Linked DNA regions of Homo sapiens: region 2 is linked to region 1. Evidence: fine-mapped expression QTL. A gene starts in region 1. The other region holds a variant in brackets. All regions are shown on one strand. Distances are from middle to middle.

The links. PIP is the estimated chance that this variant, and not a neighbour inherited with it, causes the effect.
Region 2: its variant is fine-mapped to the expression of VRK1 in testis (GTEx, PIP 0.96). The same link has a PIP of 0.9 or more in thyroid.

The regions. Positions count from the first base shown.
Region 1 is chr14:96,795,585-96,799,986 of GRCh38, forward strand. VRK1 (VRK serine/threonine kinase 1) reads left to right here and starts at 1,798. Exons shown (of 13, transcript NM_003384.3): 1 at 1,798-1,863. RefSeq lists silencers at 1,680-1,879, 1,890-2,179 and an enhancer at 2,124-2,655.
Region 2 is chr14:96,826,078-96,830,479 of GRCh38, forward strand. The region is part of intron 1 of VRK1 (VRK serine/threonine kinase 1); the gene reads left to right. Among named protein-coding and RNA genes, the nearest start is that of VRK1, 31 kb to the left of the region's middle. The variant T/C (reference allele first, on the strand shown) is at 2,306.

The DNA.
Region 1 (4,402 bases):
AGCAGCAGCCGTGATGTCATCACTTCCAGACCTGAGGCACAAAGGGAAGGGCTACTACCGCAAACTGGAGGGAGGGCCAGGGAGCAGTGACCTTCAGCTGAGGGACCTGCCAACTGGAGGTGACCTTGCCAGTCAGGATCCAGGGGCTTAACCTACTCTAACCAACCTTTCTTTTTCCTCCAATCTTCTGTGGGGTTCTCCACTGGGCACGCCCCAAAGCCAGGGGGCACAGGGAGCGCGAAGTAATTTGTAGAGGTCAGCCTCCTGGGGCAGAGGGCAGGCAGGAGAAGTATTTGGAGCAGATGAGGGTATCTGGAGGGGAAAATGTAAGACATCAGGCACAATATTGCCCTGTCTAATGGACAGAGTGATTCCAGGTTTTGTAGGGACTGAAGCTCACATAATTTTGGGGGATCTACTTTAAGAAAAATCAGCTGGGTGTGGTGGCTCATGCCTGTAATTCTAGCACTTTGGGAGGCTGAGGCGGGGTGGATTGTTTGAGCTCAGGAGTTCAAGACCAGCCTGGGCAACATGGTCAAACCCTGTCTCTACAAAAAATACAAAAATTAGCCAGAAGTGGTGGCCTGTGCGTGTAATCCCAGCTACTCGGAGGGTTGAGGTGGGAGGATTGCTTGAGCCCAGGAGGTCGTGGCTGCAGTGAACCGAGATCGCGCCAATGCATTGCAGCCTGGGTGACAAAGTGAGACTATATCTTTAAAAAAAAGAAAAAGAAAAGTAAAATCGACAAATAAACCCCCAAAGCTATGTAAACTCATTGAGGGACCTGCGCAAGTGAGGTCCTGAAGCTTACGCTTCATTGGCTTCATTGTTAATCTCCCTCTGCCTGTGACTTCAGTGATTTTGACCTAGAACAATGACCCAGTGCCCAATAAGCTCTCAGCCTCATGGGTGATGGAGACTTAGCTGATTATAATAAACACAATGCGGCCGGGCGCGGTGGCTCACGCCTGTAATCCCAGCACTTGGCGAGGCCAAGGCGGGCGGATCACAAGGTCAGGAGATCGAGACCATCCTGGCTAACACGGTGAAACCCCGTCTCTACTAAAAACAGAAAAAAATTAGCTGGGCGTGATGGCGAGCGCCTGTAGTCCCAGCTACTCGGGAGGCTGAGGCAGGAGAATGGCGTGAACCCGGGAGACGGAGCTTGCAGTGAGCCGAGACTGTGCCACTGTACTCCAGCCTGGGCGACAGAGTGAGACTCCGTCTCAAAAAAATAAATAAATAAAAATAAATAATAAACACAATGCAAACTGTGGCATACGTTGATTACAGATGAAACACTATAGATGATTAGGTAGACATTGAGATATGCTTTGAAATAGGCTTCGAAAAACAGGTAGGATTTAGACACATATCAATGAGTGGGCAGAATAATACTAACACTATCTGCTATTTATTGAGCACCAACTAAGTTTAAAGTACTGCCTATAGATTATTTCATTTAATCCTAACAGAAACAGGAAACTTATTTTACACCCAACTCTCTGCCAATACACTTAATAAATCAAGCTACTACGAACAAGGCTGTAAACCACATTTCCTAGAAGACCAGGGAGCAGAAGGACGGGGATCTCCCTTTGCCGCTAAGAGACTCCAACTCCCAGGATGCCTTGGGAGCGCTGGACCACAGCTCCCGGCATTCCCGGGGAGGCGCGGGGCTAGCGTAGCCTCCGCCCCGCGCCTCGCGTTACCACTCGTCCCGCCCCTCCTCGTCGCCTCCGAGCCAATGGGAAGGCTCCATACTGCAGGGTGCGAAGGGGCCGGCGCCGCTGCCGAGTTACGAGTCGGCGAAAGCGGCGGGAAGTTCGTACTGGGCAGAACGCGACGGGTCTGCGGCTTAGGGTAGGGAGGCCGCAGGCGACACGGCTCGAGGACTCGCGCGCCGAGCCGGGGGCGCGGAGGCGGGCGGCCGGGGCTGGGGCCGGCACTGGGCCTTCCGGGCGGCCTGTGGGTCCACCGGGGTGCGGGAGTCGCCGTCAGCCTCGGTCGCCCCGCGGGACCGCGCTCCGCCGCGTGGCTTCCGCCTGCGCGGGCGTCCGCTCCTTCCTTGTCTCGTTCAGGCCCCGCAGGCGCCCCCGGGGATGCCTGGACTGGCCAGGCCGGCCCCCATCTGAGCTCCACGTTCTGGACGCGCGTGGTGTCGCGGCCGAGCTCGCAAACGCCGCCTCGGGCCTCACCGGGAAGCCGGTTCTGTCAGGCGGGGCTCCGGGTGAACAGCGCAGGCGAGGCCCCTGCCCCGCAGAGCTCACTCTGTAGAAGGGAAACAACACACGCAGCTGCGATGTTTTGCGGATACGGAAATGCTTTCTTAGAAACGGGACAGGCAGTTGCGGGCTAGAGGAATGGGGGCGAGGCTCTTTAGGTTAGGTGATCCGGGAGGGCATCTCAGAGGATGTGACCTTTGACTTGAGACCTGAGAGGGGAGGCCGACCCCTGAGGATAGCAGCCAGGCCTGGGGACCGCGAGGCCGCCCGTTATTTCCCTGTCACATCGCGGGGAGGCCCCGTGATCCTGTACTTGAGGGTCTGTCTGGTGCAAGGCAGTTAGAGCCGCTTGTGTGTTTTGCAAGGGACTTTCATAACCGTTTGACAGTTCCTCCTCATTCTGTCCTTACCTGGCAGGGTGGCATCCTTTACTGTTGCAGCTCCATTCAGGGGCAACGCATAGTTTTTCCTACCACCGAAATAGTATTGTGGTTCTCGTCTCAAAACTCTTAGGTGGTAGAATTAAATTCGACAGACAGCAGCAGAGTCAGACACTATAGGTTCCTGTTGAGGCCACCCATTTTTCTGATGTCCTTTCTTTCAAGTCACTCATTTTTGTTTTCCTTTGTATAGACTCTTCCCTTCCCTTTCCTGTGTCCCTTTCTTGGAACAACTTGGAAATACAATTTGCTATTGGGAGGATGTTGGTTTTAGGGAACTGTTGAAGAACTTCATTAATTATTGTGTGTGTGTTTTTCTTTTCTTCTTCTTTTTTTTTAAACTGGAATTGCCCATCTGTTGAGACTGAAATTCAAGAGTAAAAAAAAGTAGGGCAGCATTTATTTTCAAGAGTTGACAATAAAGGCACCTTTCTTTATGACATGCTGAGCATGATACTTTGGGGGAGAATTTAATCTAGAATTTTGAAGCATTTTCAGAAGGAAGCAAGGGTTCTTTATATAGTCATTTTATGTAGGTTACGTTTATGTTCTTCAAAATGGCATGTAGTGATTGGAATTAAATTTCTGGGTAGATAAGATTATGTTCATCTGTTACCTATAGAAGGGAATGTAACTTAAGTAGTCACTTAATAATAGCTTTCTCTGTTGATGCTACCACAGATGGTATTCTCTACATCTCAACATTGCTGATCAGATTCTGTGTTAATACAGTAACACAACTTGAATTTAATAACAATAAACTTGTGTTAGGCGTTACTGTCAATTTAGTTCTGGTATCCAGTACAAATACCAGTTTTATAGTGCAATGTCTTCTTGTTATGTTCAGTGCTGCAAAAATTATGAGAGGATATTTGTTAAACAAATGAGATAATGGAGTAATGTGTTAAGCATAGAGCCTGGCATATAGTAAGTTAGTAAGTGCCCAGGAAATGGTTATATGGAAAGCTTATGCTAAGTTTTATTCCAGTATGCAAGTGTGTATTTTAAAAATAACAGTAATGCATTCAAAATGTTGACAGACCCTAAAATTAAATTTCTTAAAGGAAATAGGCCAGCTTTTTTTTTTAACTTTGAGAACTAATGTGAAATAATAATAAATATATAAGTGAAATGTCCCAGATGTCTAGAAATGAAAAAACAAGATTTTAATTTTGACAGCTATATTTTTTTTTCTTAAAAGCATCCCTAATAAGATATAATGTACTATGATTAGGATTATGATTTGAAAAATAAAACTTTAAAAATATTTTTGATTTGAAAAATAAAACTTATTTGGAAATGAAGCGAAGCTTTAAGATTTACCTTATATCAAATGAAGGATGTCTCCTGAATTTATGCAAATGTGCAAATGCTTATATCTCCGTAGATCAGGCAGTGAGCCTAATGGGAATTAAATGCTGCCTCTTTGTGCGTGTGAGTGAGGCTTTCATGAAAATTGCTCTTGATGGGTTCTGAGAATGGATTGGTAGCTGAATAGGACTGGAGAATATTTTTCAGACTGGTAGGATATTTTACATGCTTGCCAGGGTTATTTTTCGGAGTAAGGAGAAATGGACTCATTTATTCAGCAGAGATCACGTGCCCCCTATTTACAAGGAATTGTGCTAGGTGCAAAGTCTATTGCTATTGTAGTGTTTTGCTGAAGCAAGTTTTCTTTGTTTTAAATTAGTGTACGTCTTTTTTTTTTTTTTTTTAACTTTATCTAGCATCCAGCAC
Region 2 (4,402 bases), 30 kb after region 1:
ACTTGAAGAATGCCAGTTGTCTAAATACAGTACCATATTGTGATAAATATAGCTATTGAAATTTTTAAAAATCTATTCACAAAACTTTATTTTAATATTCATAGCAGAACTTTTTTTGGAATGTTATCTGAAAAACAGAGGACCATTTTATCATCAGAGCTGACTATTAATTAGGGTATTGTTGCAGATATAAAAGTTGATCTGCCACTGAAATTCTATTTGAATATGTATAGTTCCAAGCTTGCTTTGTGTATTTAATAACTTTAGTACCATAATTACTCTGTTTACAATTAAATTTTGGTGAATATGCTAATATGGAATATACCAATGAGTGATTTCAGCAAAGGGCAGTATTGATTTGCATCTTGATGTGCTTTTCAGTTGCATCTGCATTTCATTTAATATCAGAGGAAAAGAAGTGGTCAGATTATGTAATGCTAAACTTTTTTTTCTTTGAAACCTCTCTGTTGCATTGGCTACTATAAAAGTAGACTTGCATAGAGTCAGAGGGGCTGAAATTATGTGGAAAGATTTAATTTTGTTAAAGTTTGTGCCTTTCGGTATATTCATTAATAGAAACCTTAATGCAAGCATCGGTTTCATTATTAGAAGAAACCTATAATGTACTAAAGTGATTGTTTAATTCTAATTAGTATTTTAAGTTCTTCAGAAAACTCACTAACTTACTGAAGCAAATACTTGTGATTATTTTATTTCTTTGAGCAGGGACTTCTGGTTTTAAATAATTCCTCTTTTAAGAAATTGCCTGAAAAGCAACAAGGAGATTGAGAAACAGTGATTTCATATTCTGAGAAACTGAGAAGCTTCTGTAGCCCTGAACTAGAAAATAAGGAGCTGCCAAATTCAGTGAAGGTCAAACAGGGTATGGGAGGATGCTGAAAGGGAACCTGAGACACAGATGTCAGGAAAGCTGGCAGAACTGTGTTCTCTAAAGAAAGGGGCACACCCTGAGAGGCACATTAATAAGCCTTTGTCTGGGAGAACAGGAATAGGTGTTGGCAGGCAGGGGCACTAGGGAACTTTATGGTGTGATGAAAATGTTCTGTCTGGTGGTCGCACAAGTGTATGTACGTTTGTAAAATTTTGTCAGTTTACTTTGTGCAAGTTAGTAATTTATTGCCTCTCAACTCCAAATTCACCCCTTTTTGCTCTATTTATATACTCGAGCCAGACCTTTTAAATATTTTTTCTTTTCCTGGACAGTGTTAGATTTTGTCAGTAGAAGGTGAGGAAGGGATACTGCAAGACTTAGCAGAGAAAGTGCTTCTCTTGTTGCCATGTGCTTGTTTTTTTGTTCGTTTGTTTGTTTTTCTTAATCTCTTAAGGTGTGGCTGTCAGCTCTACTTACTCTCCTGTAAGCTTCATTAGCACCCTGGTAGGCAGCTTCTTGCTCCCACCAGTATCTCGTGGGCAGCAGATTCCTGTGGATAAGCTGTAGCTCACTGGCCCTACAGAGAACTACCCTACCGCTCAGTGGGTCACTGCCACAGTCTGTCCAGTGAAGTGTTCCTTTCTTGGGCACTCTCCCTTAGCCTTGGAGACAGTAACTGCTCCCTATATTTGCTAGTTCCATATTCCTTCAAATTGTCTTTTACATCTATTAGCACTTGACAACTTTTTACAAATTAATAATTTTTTATTTATGTTACATTTTCTTGTTTTAATTGATTGTTTGTTTTCTAGCTCCTGAATGGACACTGACTGTTATCACACACTTGTGATTTGTGTACCTTACTTACTGTGTTAATTTTACATAAATAAACAGGATGAAATAATAAGTATACTTCTTGATTACTTTCTATAACATGAACCAATTGTTTAAACACCAAGATTGGGATATAGAATGCTACCAGATCCCTAGGAACCATCCACCTCCAGCCATTTCTTCTGACCCTTAGTCCCCAAAGTGATATCTGCTGTTTGACTTGTATCACCATTGATTTGTTTTATTATTGAAATTCATGTAAATGGAATATAGTATGTACTCTTCTGTCTGGTGCTGCTTTTTCTTAACACAGTGTTTGGTATGTCCATCCGTCTTACTATATTCATTTTCCTGTTGTTGGACATACAGGTTTCCAGTTTGTGGCTGTTGTGAATAAAGCTGTTATCATTCTTGTACATGTCTTTGGGTGGACATGTACATGCATAGAAGTTGAATTGCTGGGTCGGTTAGCAGGTACTGCCAAATGAATTTTCAAAATGATCGAAACAGTATACAGTGTAGGAGAGTTCTGTTTGTTCCAACTCCTTACCAACACTTTGTAGTGTCAGACTTTTGCAG[T/C]TGAAGTCTTCAAAACCTTAAGGAATAGATCAAATGCTGCTTAAACTCCTTAGATTGTGGTAAAGGAAGAAAAGCTTCCAAAATCTTATTATGAAGTGAGCATAATATTGATACTTAAACAGATAAATGTAGCAGAAAAAATAAACTACAGACCATTCTTATGAATATCAGTCTTGTCTATGGCTATACCACCCTGAGTGTGCCCGATCTCGTCTAAATATCAGTCTTGTTCCTAAATAAAATATTAGCAAATAGAATTCAGCAGCACACTAAAAAAATTATAACTGCCACCAAGTATAATTTTTTTTTTTCTAGGAAGGTTGTGTTAAATAGCTCTATATGAGTATGTGGTATACCAGCTGTATTTAAGTCTTTTGTGTTTCTCAAGATGCTAAAAGATAAGTATTGAACAAGTATTTATTAGTACACTGCCATTGGCCCTGCTTATACCTGGCTGAAGCAGGCCCTAAGGATTGACAGGGCCTTTGGTTGCCTGAGGCCACCTGAGATTATAGGGGCCAGCAAGAGCAAGAGGGAATCCTCCACATCTTTTTCCATTAGAAGCCACAGGAGGGAGTTTCATTTAGATACATTTTAAAGAAATATTTCTGTCATAGTGGCCTCTTGCAGAGCAGCTGAGTATATTTCAGTGACTTCTTAACGTTTATGCGCAAGACACAGAGCTACTCTGTTTAATATACAACATATAAGATGTGCCTGGAAATAAAAAGCAAGACTAATAATTCAAAAGAAAAATGAGCCGAGGTTACTCATAGTTTACAGGAAATAAAGTACAGATTTTGCTTAGGAGTGTTTTCTTTTAATTTTTTTTTTTTTTTTTGAGAGGGAAGTGGGAATGGACTGGGCATGCTCATTGAGTATGAGAGGATTTCCAGTTTTGATCCCTTGGTGAATATTAATTATAGGAGCAATAATCATTTTGTTAAGGAACCTGGTTTCTTTTCATGGGAAGTGGTATTTTAAGACTACAATTTGTTTGCTAGGGATGCTCTTTGCTGCTGGGTTGATTATTGTTTCTAAGCTTTTTAGTGAATGGGGCTAGGAAATACAAAGATGTGTTTCTGTGTATGTGTTTATTTTAAAGATACATTCTGAACTAAAAATATTTCCAAGTACAGCATTTTTACCTTTACCTATTCTATCTTTTATCTCTGTCTCTTTCTTCCATATCTGAATCCTGATGTTCAGGGACACAAGAGAATGATAGAATAATAATATCACATAATTACTCATTTGCATCATTCCACATGTATGCACACAACAGTCTTAGTTAACAAAATCAAGTATCACAATATGATTTCTGGAAAGTTGCCTTTTTTGCGTATGTTATCCCATTTTTTGATAGTTGTACTATATCTACAGTGTCAGTACATTTGCCCATTATATACTCTTTTCTCTCTTTTATAACCCTTGTTGAGTCTCAGTTCTACAAGTATATATTTACTGCTCACTGATATTGACATTTCTTTAGTCATTTTGGATATTGCTATGGGAGTGGCAGACCCCTTCTACTGGGCTTCTTCTCTAGTAGATTCTTATTGCTGTTTTCTATATTGATAACACTTAGCAGTCTTTATACTCGAAATTTAGCTGGGTATAAAATCTTTGGTTCATGTTTCCTTTCTTAGAGTCTTAAATATGTTACTTTTTTTCCCCTGGCATAAAATGTTGCTGTTAAAGTGATGACAATTTGATTTTATTTTCCTTATAAAATATCTGCAGATGCTCAAAAAGTATTTTCATTTACTATTAAGTTAACTAAATTATATCTTGGTGATGGTCATTCTGGGTTGATTTTTCAAATGTATGTGATATGACCTTTCAAAATGTAGTTTTATGTTTAAATGAAGTTCAGGAAAGTTTTCTTGAATTAAATGATTTTTAATATTCTGTTCCCTTGCTTTGATTTTCTTTGTTATATGTATGTTGGTTTTTTTGTGTATGTTTTCTTAAACATTTTTTGGTCCTTTTTGATTTTTTTGTTTTTTTCCTTTTCACTTTCTATTTCTCTTGTCATTAAAAAGTTTTATTTACTCTTATGTTCCTTCTCATGTAGTTTTTATTTCCGAACTGATT